Linked DNA regions of Homo sapiens. The protein of the gene in region 2 interacts with the protein of the main gene of each other region in a biochemical or structural test. Each region holds a gene or a part of one and is shown on either strand. Other genes may lie near its edges. The genes, in order: COPE, COPG1 and COPZ1.

The links.
Region 1: the proteins of COPG1 (region 2) and COPE form a complex in vitro, tested with the Homo sapiens proteins (one study listed by BioGRID).
Region 3: the proteins of COPG1 (region 2) and COPZ1 form a complex in vitro, tested with the Homo sapiens proteins (one study listed by BioGRID).

Annotation. Positions count from the first base shown.
Region 1 is NC_000019.10:18,912,724-18,916,470, forward strand, and holds part of COPE (coatomer subunit epsilon), read right to left. Parts: intron 324-3,747; coding exon 261-323; intron 1-260. UniProt on the Homo sapiens protein: The coatomer is a cytosolic protein complex that binds to dilysine motifs and reversibly associates with Golgi non-clathrin-coated vesicles, which further mediate biosynthetic protein transport from the ER, via the Golgi up to the trans Golgi network.
Region 2 is NC_000003.12:129,266,524-129,270,270, reverse strand, and holds part of COPG1 (coatomer subunit gamma-1), read right to left. Parts: intron 3,248-3,747; coding exon 3,172-3,247; intron 2,335-3,171; coding exon 2,231-2,334; intron 1,777-2,230; coding exon 1,651-1,776; intron 1,340-1,650; coding exon 1,271-1,339; intron 1-1,270. UniProt on the Homo sapiens protein: The coatomer is a cytosolic protein complex that binds to dilysine motifs and reversibly associates with Golgi non-clathrin-coated vesicles, which further mediate biosynthetic protein transport from the ER, via the Golgi up to the trans Golgi network.
Region 3 is NC_000012.12:54,335,019-54,338,765, reverse strand, and holds part of COPZ1 (coatomer subunit zeta-1), read right to left. Parts: intron 1,551-3,747; exon of another isoform or gene 1,452-1,550; intron 1-1,451. UniProt on the Homo sapiens protein: The coatomer is a cytosolic protein complex that binds to dilysine motifs and reversibly associates with Golgi non-clathrin-coated vesicles, which further mediate biosynthetic protein transport from the ER, via the Golgi up to the trans Golgi network.

The DNA.
Region 1 (3,747 bases), on a different chromosome or scaffold from region 2:
GTGAGACTCCGTCTCAAAAAAAAAAAAAAAAAAATCAAGAAGCTGTGACCCAGGCCCCCTGGCCTGGCAGTCTCAGGCCTCCGTGACACAGCCACCTTCACATGCTGGCTGCGCTGGCTGTTCACAGTCACTGAACACTGCAGGCCTGGGTCCCTGCTTTGTTTACTGTCCCCGCCACCCACTCTGTGGTGCCTTCCTGTCCCCAGCCCCACCCTCTACTCTGTTCATCACTCTTGCCCCCGGCCAAGGCCCGCACTCACCTGCGCCAGGTACGCTCTATACAGGAAGACGTCCCTCTCCACGTCTCTCTCTGGGCTTGATAGCTGTGGGAACCAATGTGAGTCAGGACGCACAGTGGGAGGCCCAGCGCAGCCCACACAGGGTGAGCATGACAGACAGGCCCCTGTACACTGGGGACAGGTGGCTTCTCCGGCAGGGTTGGAGGTCTGAGTCCCAGCCCTGATCCTCCGTAGCCCGAGTGGCCTCTGCTGGGGGTACCCTACACGGGGGGTGCCTGATCTCATCCCGCGCTGACACCACCCCAGGAAGGAGGCTTGCTCCCAAGTTCAGTGTCTGCCCCAGTCACACTTAAGAAGCCAGGGTGGCACCCGCACCTCTAACCTCTGGACATGGGGCCACTGTGGCTTGATTCTGTTCTGCTTTTGTCTCAAGACATTTTGAGCTCAGTTTGGCTGCCCCAGTGTGGTGACATCTGTGCCCAGCCCTGGCCAGGGGAGACCCTGGGAATGGCTCTGTACTTGGGCCACACCCCCACAGCCCAGCCATTGCACAGAACTGAGGAGCAAGAGGGAGGTAACCTGTGGCAACATCCATTTTGGGATGATAATGAAGCTGCCCCTGAGCCCAGGCCAGGGAGGGAGGCTGGGACCGCTCTCCAGAACACAGCTTTGCATGCTGCCCCCGGAGGCTGGCTGACTTCCCAGGGTGCCCATGGCAGGTGGGCACAGTGCAGCTCAGCCCATGGCCTGAGGGTGCTCGCCCAGGCCCCTGGGGGCTTCGAGAGGAAAGTACAGTTGGGAAGGGGCCCAGCCACCTTGGCATCGCCACTCCAACAACCTCTAAACAGAGGGGACTGAGAAGGCTGTCAGCAAGAGGGCCTGCCAGCTGTCAAGGCACAGGGTCAAAGGACCCAGTGCCCAAACCAGGGGGAGTCACTCTGCCCTGTCCTCTGAAGCCGAGAACCACAGATTCCAAGCCACATCTCTTCCTTCTCCCCAGCCTGAGGGAGGAGCGTGGATGTCAAACGTGTCCTCATCCCAGGCCGCCGCAGACCTGGCCCCAGCCTGACTCAGGCTGCCATTGCCAAGAGGACCCAGCAGCTTCTGCTCAGGCCCTGGTAGCCAGAGTGGGTATCTGGCTATGATTTGGAACAAGATGCCATCTAAATAAATAACTCCTAGAAGAATGTCAAAGGCATGCGGAGGGTGGTGGCTGCAGAAATCGAGCCCCACCTGCAAATGGGATGGACAGGTGAAATATGTACCTTTTCAAGTATGCAAAGAAACATATTATAGGCCGGGCATGGTAGCTCATGCCTGTAATCCCAGCACTTTGGGAGGCCGAAGTGGGTGGATCATTAGAGGTCAGGAGTTCCAGACCAGCCTGGCCAACATGGTGAAACCCCGCCTCTACTTAAAAATACAAAAATTAGCCAGGTGTGGTGGCGGGCGCCTATAATCCCAGCTACTCAGGAGGCTGAGGCAAGAGAATCACTTGAACCCGGGAGATAGAGGCTGTAGTAAGCCGAGATCACGCCATTGCACTCCAGCCTAGGTGACAGAGCAAGACTCCATCTCAATAAAAAATAAATAAGTAACTCTCAATCAACCTTCTGAGGTGGACTTCAGTTAGGTGACTAGCCCAGGGCCACATGCCACCCTCAGTTAAAAAAGACAGGCCAGGTGTGGTGGCTCACACCTGTAAACCCAGTGCTTTGGGAGGCCAAAGCAGGAGCACTGCTTGAGCCCAGGAGTTTGAGACCAGCATAGGCAACATAGCAAAAAGCATAGTCTTTTTTTTTTTTTTTTTTTTGATGGAGTCTTGCTCTGTCACCCAGGTTGGAGTGCAGTGGCGTGTATCTCGGCTCACTACAACCTCTGCCGCCTGGGTTCAAGAGATTTTTCTGCCTCAGTCTCCCGAGTAGCCGCGACTATATGTATTTTTAGTAGAGATGGGGTTTCACCATATTGGCCAGGCTGGTCTTGAACTCCTGACCTTGTGAACCAGCCGCCTCGGCCTCCCAAAGTGCTGGGATTACAGGCATGAGCCACCGTGCCCGGTCTGAGACCCTGTGTCCATAAAAAAATTATAAATATTAGCCAGGTGTGGTAGCATGCACCTGTAGTCCCAGCGACTCAGGAGGTTCATGAAGGAGGATCGCTTGAGCCTGGGAGGTCGAGGCTACAGTGGACTATGATCATGCCACTGCACTGCACTCTGGCCTGGGTGACAGAGTGAGACCCTGTCTATCTTTAGGGAAAAAAAAGAGACAAAAGCTGGCTGTTGGGCTTTCAAAGTGAGGACACAGTGGGGCGCCATCGGGGGCACCAGGGTGGCCTCAGCCGCCCCTGTGTGAAATGCAGGTGCCCAGGAGACTGTGCGTGCGGAAGTGCTCAGAGGCTGCAGAGTGCACTGGAGAGACAAGAGTGCCGGGAAGCATAACAACAACAAATGTGCAGACCGTGACCCTGACGTGAGGCTCTGGAACCGTTGTGGTTTTCCTCGACTTCCAGGGACGATCCTACCATCAGGACGCATGTGTGTCCCCGGGGTGGGAGAGCATTGCTCTTCAACCCCAAGGGCTCACTACGATCACCTGGGAGCCCAGGAACCACCAAAGCCAGGAGGCCACATCCACCAAGGTCACCTGGCCCTAGGATGGCCCCAGCACTGGCCCCAGGTGGCTTAAGATGTGGCCATGGTTGAGGAATCAGGGTACTGTTTGGGAAGGCGGGTGACAGGATGGGGGCCCTGTAGCCAGAAACCTTGGGGGTAGTAACTCCTCCCTTCTGTCCCTGTAGCCAGTGATCTGACCGCACTGGGCCGTCAGCAACTCAAGGCCTATGAGCTGCTTCAACCCCAACAGCTGGGCGGTGCCTGCCATCTTGTGGGCAAACTGGCAAATGTCAGAAACCCAGAAACGTCATGATGGTAGCCTAGTGCTGGGGGCAGCAAAGGGCAAAGACTGCCAGGTGCTCTCCCTGGGGCCACCTCAGGTGGGGCTGAGGTTGCTCAGGCCACTGTCATGAACTACCACAGACCAGATGGCTTAAAAAATGTATTCCTCAAAAATTAGCCAGGTGTGGTGGCGCACGCCTGTAATCCCACCTACTCGGGAGGCTGAGGCAGGAGAATCGCTTGAACCCAGGAGGCAGAGGTTGTGGTGAGCTGAGATCATGCCACTACACTCCAGCCTGGGCAACAGAGCAAGACTCCATCTCAAAAACAAAAAAACAAAAATTAGCTGGGCGTGGTGGCAGGCACCTGTAATCCCAGCTACTCTGAAGGCTGAGGCAGGAGAATGGTGTGAACCCAGGAGGCGGAGGATGCAGTGAGCTGAGATTGTGCCACTGCACTCCAGCCTGGGTGACAGAGTTAGACTCTGTCTCAAAAAAAAAAAGTATTCCTGGCCAGGCGTGGTGGCTCACACCTGTAATCCCAGCACTGTGGGAGGCTGAGGCGGGCAGATCACTTGAGGTCAAGAGTTCGAGATCAGCCTGACCAACA
Region 2 (3,747 bases):
GAGACTTCCTTGGAAGGTGTGGCAGAATAATGACTCCAAGATGCCCACATGCTAATTCCCAGAACCTGCAGCTATGTTACCTTGCATGGTAAAAGGGACTTTGTAGATGTGATTAAATTAAGGATCTTGAGCTAGGGGTTATCCTGGATTATCCAGGGGGGGCCAGTGTAATCATAAGGGCCCTTCTAGGGCAGAAGGTCAGAGTAGAGAGATTTGAAAAGGCCAGGAGTGTGGCCTCTTCAAATCACTCTACTCTGACCTTCTGCCCTAGAAGGGCCCTTAAAGACGGTGGAAGGGGCCACGAGCCAAGGATACGGGCCACCTCTAGTAGCTGGAAAAGGCAAGGGGGCAATACCTGGAGCCTCCTGAAAGAACTCAGCACTGCTAACAAATGAAACCCACTTTGGACTTCTGACCGCAGAGCTATAAGGTTATAAATGTGTTAAGCCACTAAGTTTGTGGTAACGTGTTACAGCAGCAATAGAAAACTGATATAAATGGAAAGTTTCATGTTATAGCGATCCCAATTAGCTCAGGATCCATGCTATATTGATATAAGACATGATTCTGAGTGTAATGGGGAAGGGGGGATTTCATTTAATTCAACATTAATTGGGAGCCTACTGTGAGGAAGGAAGGCACTGGGCTCAGTGCTGTGATAGACGCAGAAAATAAAAGACAGAACATGTGAAGAACTATTTAGCACAGAGGGCTGTTTAAGAGAAGACAGAAGAGCTAGGATGGAAGTGAGGGCCCATGAAGGAAGAGGGGTCTATGCTTTTATCTACTGAATTCAGTGGATAAAACAATCTGCAATTAGACACACAGCCTCTCCCCTTAAAAATGCAACACCAGAGGACAGATGGATACCTGAAGAAAACCTTACAAGACAATGTGGACAGAACACACGTGGAACCCGACAAAAAGTACCAGTGTCTTTGAATCCCAGCACTGCTCTCTCAGACATTCTGAACTGGCCTGGGCTCCAGGGACCCGAGCCCTCCAAATTGAGGCCCAGTAACAGCACTGAGCCAGTTTGATCGGGACCTTAATTCCAGCCCCTCCTACTACTTTCTCTCTCTGAACTTCCAATTCCTCAGATATTGAAGGAACCCAACAACCACCACCTGAGGGTCAAATGTGATAGTAGGTCTAAAGCATCTCAAGGGCCTAGCACTCAGGAGAGACCAATATATGACAGTTCTTACTCTTGAACCCCCTGAGGAAACTAAGCCCAGGTCCCAAGCATCCCCCAACCACTGTGACTCACCCTGGAAGATCTCCTGCCTGGTAGCTGCCACTTTCTCAGGCTGTTTGACTGCTGTGATGGGGGTACTTTCTGCAGGAGCAAATTATACACGTGATGACCAACAGCTGGAGTCACGGGGCAGTGTGGTGGTGACCCCAGTGCTATTACTCAGGGATTATAAATACTAACCCTCCTGAGAGTGGGAAGCAGAAGACATGTGAGAGAGCCCACGTCTGTGTGTATGTGTGTCTCTATTTTCTGGAGCCAGAGGTGGAAAAGATCATTTCCTCCTCCCAGCATAACTGCCACCCACCCTAGTTAGGTTAGTGGCTTTGCAGCCAATGCAGACCCTCCAACAGAGGCCTGGCCTTGATGGCCTCTGGGAGGAGTATAAGTGTTACCTGTTCTCTGCTCTGCCATGGGCGCCGTGGCCAGGGGCACAGACTTGAGGTCAAAAGGTTTTTCTGATGGTTCTAGAGTGTACTGCTGCAGAGCCCTCTCCAGACCAGGGATGGACACAGTCAGACCTGGAGGTGAAGAGAGGTCACCATGCCTGGCAGATAGAGCAAAATGTGCACCAGGGACCACCATGGAGGCCCTGGGGTCCCGAAGTTACAAGTCCTAAGTAGTATGACCCTGAGAAAATCACTTTATTCTCTAAGCCTCTGCATTCTCAGACACATCCTCCCTTACAGGGTAGGTGTGGGGAATAAACATATATACAAAGTGACTTGTAAAGGGTAAAGTACTGTAAAAATAAAGTTTTTATTAATGATGAGCGTTTCAATTCACTGGACAATTTCCACCCAATTCAGGTGTGACCTGAATGACCCGGGACCTCCTGAGGTCACCATGATGCCATGAGGTTGCCAGGCAAGTCCAGCCAAGAGCATCTTGCCTCTGATTTCCCCTGCCCAGGGAGTGATGAGAACCACAGCTCCAGTAAGGTGCTGAGTCCAAGATAGCCAGGGAATGACTCACCATTTAGGATATAGCCTGCATTAAGGGCCTTCTGCTTCTGCTCCAGGACATTTAGGTAGAAGGTGGCTCGGTCCCTTACTTCATTGTCATCATCCATCACACACCTGCAGCCAGGACACAAGGTGGTCCTGACTGGGACCCAGCAGGGATGGCAGGAGGGATCCTGCATGGCTTCATTAGAGGTAAGTCCATAGGGATAACAAGTAGACTAGTGGTGGCCCCAGGCGGAGGGTGGAGGGAGTGAGGAGAGGCCACACTCATGAACACTGAGTTCCCTTTGGGGTGATGAAATGTTTTAAACTCAGGTTGTGGTGATGGTTCCATCACTCTGTGAATATGCTAAAACCCATCAAACTACACATCTTAAATGGGTAAATTGTATGGTATGTGAATTATATCTCAATAGAGCTATTTTTTTTTTGAGCTGGAGTCTCGCTCTGTCACCCAGGCTGGAATGCGGGGCATGATCTCGGCTCACTGCAAGCTCCATCTCCCAGGTTCACACCATTCTCCTGCCTCAGCCTCCCAAGTAGCTGGGACTACAGGCACCCGCCACCACACCTGGCTAATTTTTTATATTTGTAGTAGAGACGGGGTTTCAGCGTGTTAGCCAGGACGGTCTCAATCTCCTGACCTTGTGATCCGCCCGCCTTGGCCTCCCAAAGTGCTGGGATTACAGGCGGGAGCCACTATGCCCGGCTTCAATAGAGCTATTTTTAAAAAATGGACAAAATAATTCAAGTTACCAATTGTCACATCTGGTTGGTGCAATTTGCACAGCATTGTTTTTCATGCTTTTCTATGCTTTCTCTTTTTTTTCTACAATCAGTAGCTGTATAACTTTTCTCTCCCTTTTCAGTTAAAAAAAAATAAAGACAAAGGAAAGCTGCTTGGGTCCAAGGGAACACTGTCCCCATTAGGGCCCCTGGGCCTAGACTCACCTCTTCAGCAACACCAAGATACTGGGTAACATCTCTTCATTCTGGGCTCCAAACTTCGCCAGAGCACTCACAGCACCTGTGTTTAGGAAGCGAATGTGATTTACCCAATGCACCCTGACAACTCACTGTTTGGGCACTTCCAGCACTCAGAATGGGTCTTCAGGCAGAAGAGCCCCAGAGGCAAGAAGTCTCAAGCCAGGAGGCCCAAAGTCACTACCAACAGAGTGAGTGGCTTTGGGTGGATCTTGGCACCATCCCAGGCCTCAACTTCCTTATCTATTTAATGGAGAAGGGCGCCAGATGGGATTAGTAGCTCCCATTCTAAGGTTCCAGGAGCTAATTTCAAATTAACCATGATGAGGTCACAGAAGCTGGCTATAATGTAAAGCTCCTCACCTTCCATATCCAAATGGCGTCAATTTGCAGTTAAGGCTCAGAATAATAAAAATGAGAAAGGGAACAATTACTTAAAGATCATTTATTGCTGAAAGAAGAAAATCTGTCCAGTGGGGGCATGAAAAGAAATTAAAAATAAAGAATAGGAAGGTTGCTCACTGAATTGTAAACTTTATATAA
Region 3 (3,747 bases), on a different chromosome or scaffold from region 2:
TTTTGTTTTGTTCGCTGGTTTGTCCCATTTGTCCAGAACAATGCCTGACACATACTAAACTCTCAATATTTGGTGAATAATTCAGAGAATAAAGGAAGTTTGAGAATAAAGTTAAAATACCTTGACGCAGTATGCATCTAAGGGACTACTTATAATTAGACCTCCACATATAAGTGGATTTTCTGATGTGGCCACTTTGGGTGATATTACTACCAACTTTATCCCTCCTCTGATAAACACTCCTTAGAGATGTCCATCCTGTATATATAACACTCTGGAATAAACAAGGCATGAGTAACTCCTCTCTCAAACTAAAGAACTTTGTTGCCTAGTGGAGGGAAGTCCTCTAGAGTCTAGTCTTAAAAGGTCACAAGTAGAAGCAGCTCTCCTAACTCCTAATTCCTCACAGAAAGATCTTCCTGTAAAGCAGGCTCAGTTCTATAACAACTTGGGTCCTCAATTCCAAAAGGGAGACAACAATGGGAATGAGTTTTCTTAATGGAAGAAAAGAAGTCCAAAAGGAACAAAATTTAGACGAAATCATTTTTTCCCACAACCTTTTCCTGGAAATCTTTGGCTCTGTTCCTCTATCCACATTCACAGCAACTTTAGAGAGCTGCCCATTAGTTTAAGCTGGGCATTAACCTGGCATAGGAAACTGGTTCTTGCAGCCATAGAGTTTGGCATCCCTAGAACCCAAAGAAAAGCAAAGCCCTAATGGCCCCCAGCCAACTGGGAGAGTCAGACAATGTCCTTTGTGGCCAACAGGGTGTGAGTGCCTACAACAGCCACACCGGCAAAGAGAGAACATATCCCTGGGTTCTGCTCTTGGTTCTTTTCACTGGCTTCCTAGAAGACATTATCAAAGAAACCCCAAAAATAGAAACATTGGATCTTCCTGGGAAGAATAAAAGACAGGCTAAGGAGGACAAGGATAAAGACTAGATTTGACATAGAGCTTACTGGAGCTCTCAAAAGGGAAAGAAGGCATTACAGAAAAGGCTGGTCATTTCAAACTTCCAAAGGAGGAAGCATACTAAATAAAGCTGAGAATTTAGGCAGGCGCTTAAATGCCGCTTCAATTCTCCATTCTGCTACAGCTGGAGCCAGCAGCTTCTTTACTTCTCCTGCCACCTCCTGACTGCAGCTGGTTCCACTTCAGCCTGGGGCTTTTACCTCTCAGGAGTGGGGAGGGCTATGCCATAAAACTAGCCAGTTTAAAGGCCCCAGAAGTCATTACTGATAATGTAATTTCATTTTAAGTTTTTGCAAAGGGCAAGTTTATAAATAACTCCCAGCTACTGAGAAATGGGCTTCCAGGACAATGGACTAGGCTTGACCTTGTAACACATTAAATGCTGACTGTTGAGAAAGACCTTATCAGCTTAGGGCCACACTGAAAGAATTTAAAAGGTCTATTCTTCCCTCCCACTCCCAAAATGGGTAGCTGCTAGAAAGCTTTCGAGACAAAGTTCTGTGATGCACTGACTTTCAGAGAGCCACAGCCTGAGTGTATAACAGAACTTCACCTCAAATGCTAATCGTGCTTGGAAATGATGTATAGGCAGATTGTTTTGTGGGAGATTGGGTGACTTAGACAGATTTTCATGTATTTATGTTTTTATTATCAAGAAAACAAGAATGCTGTCCTCAAGACAGGTGAAACACCACAGAACAAGCAACTAGGCTGCTGCAAATGAATCTTTGATCTCAGGGGCTTCTTTTTTTTTTTTTTTTTTTTTTTTTGCGACAGTCTCTCTCTGTCACCCAGGCTGGAGTGCAGTGGAGCAAACTCCGCTCACTACAACCTCCACCTCCCGGATTCAAGTGATTCTTGTGCCTCAGCCTCCCGGGTAGCTGGGACTACAGGCACACACCCCCATGCCCAGCTAATTTTTGTATTTTTAGTAGAGACGGGGTTTCACCAAATTGGCCAGGCTGGTCTCGAACTCCTGACCTCATGATCTGCCTGCCTCGGCCTCCCAAAGTGCTGGGATTACAGGCGTGAGCCACCGTGCCCGGCCTCAATCAGGGGCTTCTAAAGCCTGGTGAAAAGCATCAACATCTCCAAGAACTCTCTCCCCTAGCGCATAGAGGACTAGAGGGAAAGAGTCATTCCTAGTGCTGCCCCCTGTGGGCCTTCTCGGTGACCTGCAGCTTCCACAGGATTACAGTCATAAGCAAAAATATTTTTCAAAGGCAGCTCTGGATAAGAGCTTTTTTTTTTTTGAGACGGAGTCTCGCTCTGTCGCCCAGGCTGGAGTGCAGTGGCACGATCTCAGCTCACTGCAAGCTCCGCCTCCTGGTTCAAGCTCTCCTGCTTCAGCCTCCCGAGTAGCTGGGACTACACGCACCTGCCACCATGCCCGGCTAATTTTTTGTATTTTTAGTAGGGATGGGGTTTCACTGTAGCCAGGATGGTCTCAATCTCCTGACCTCGTGATCCGCCCGCCTCGGCCTCCCAAAGTGCTGGGATTACAGGCGTGAGCCACCGCACCCGGCAAAAGCTCTCTATTTGTGTGTCTTGTAGGACAAACTAGTAGAGATGGGCCCTGAAAAATAAGTGAATTAAGTCTGTTCACAATGTATATAGTAAGAGAACTCTTTGGGGTAAGATCTTAGTAAGCCACCAGAAGACTGGGAGAATATGTTTGGGGAAGGTAGAGAGGATACTTGGAAACTATAATGAATTATTTGATTCATTTAGGGGAAAAAACCAAGAAGCCTCTATGGAGGGAATTACAGGATGCCATCTACAGAGCTGAAAGAGCACAAATAAGAATATGGAGGCCAGGCGCAGTGGCTCATGCCTGTAATCCTAGCACTTTTGGAAGCTGAGGCAGGAGATCACTAGAGCCAGGAGTTCAAGACCAACCTGGGCAACACAGTGAGACCCTGTCTCTGCAAGAACTTAAAAAAAACAAAAATTAGCCAGGCATGGTGGCATGCACCTGTAGTCTCAGCTACTCAGGAAGCTGAGGCAGGAGGATCGCTTGAGCTTGGGAGTTCAAGGCTGTAGTGAGCTACAATTGCGCTACTGCACTCCAGCCTACACAAAAGAGTGAGACCGCCTCAAAAAAAAAAAGAAGCTGACTGAGATCACTAAAAAGTTCTTCATTGTCTACTTAAAAATAAATCCTTCCAGCCTGGCCAACATGGTGAAACCCTGTCTCTACCAAAATTACAAAACTTAGCCAGGCATGGTAGCAGACGCCTGTAATCCCAGCTACTCAGGAGGCTGAGGCAGGAGAATCGCTTATACCTGGGAGGCAGAGGTTGCGGTGAGCTGAGATCGCACCACTGCACTCCAGCCTGGGCGACAGAGCAAGACTTCAGATCAAAAAAAAAAAAAACATTCCCTAAGGCCATACCAAAAGGGCCTGATGTGGCATTACCCTGATGTGGCAATGGGTCTTGGTGAATTAAAAACTGTAACAAGATTCTCTTGTCTCAATCCTGTTTATAAAGTAAAACTAAGAAGGTAAAAACTAGAAGGAGAAATTCCTAGATACCACTCCCAGCTCCAAATGGCTAAGTAGGTATACTTCCTGACTCTGTGCCAACACTTTTTTTTTTTTTTTTTTGACAGAGTTTCACTTTGTTTCACTTTGTTGTCCAGGCTGGGGTGCAGTGGCACAATCTTGGCTCACTGCAACCTCCGCCTCCTGGGTTCCAGCAATTCTCGTGTCTCAGCCTCCTCAGTAGCTGGGATTACAGGTGACTGCCACCATGCCCAGCTGATTTTTT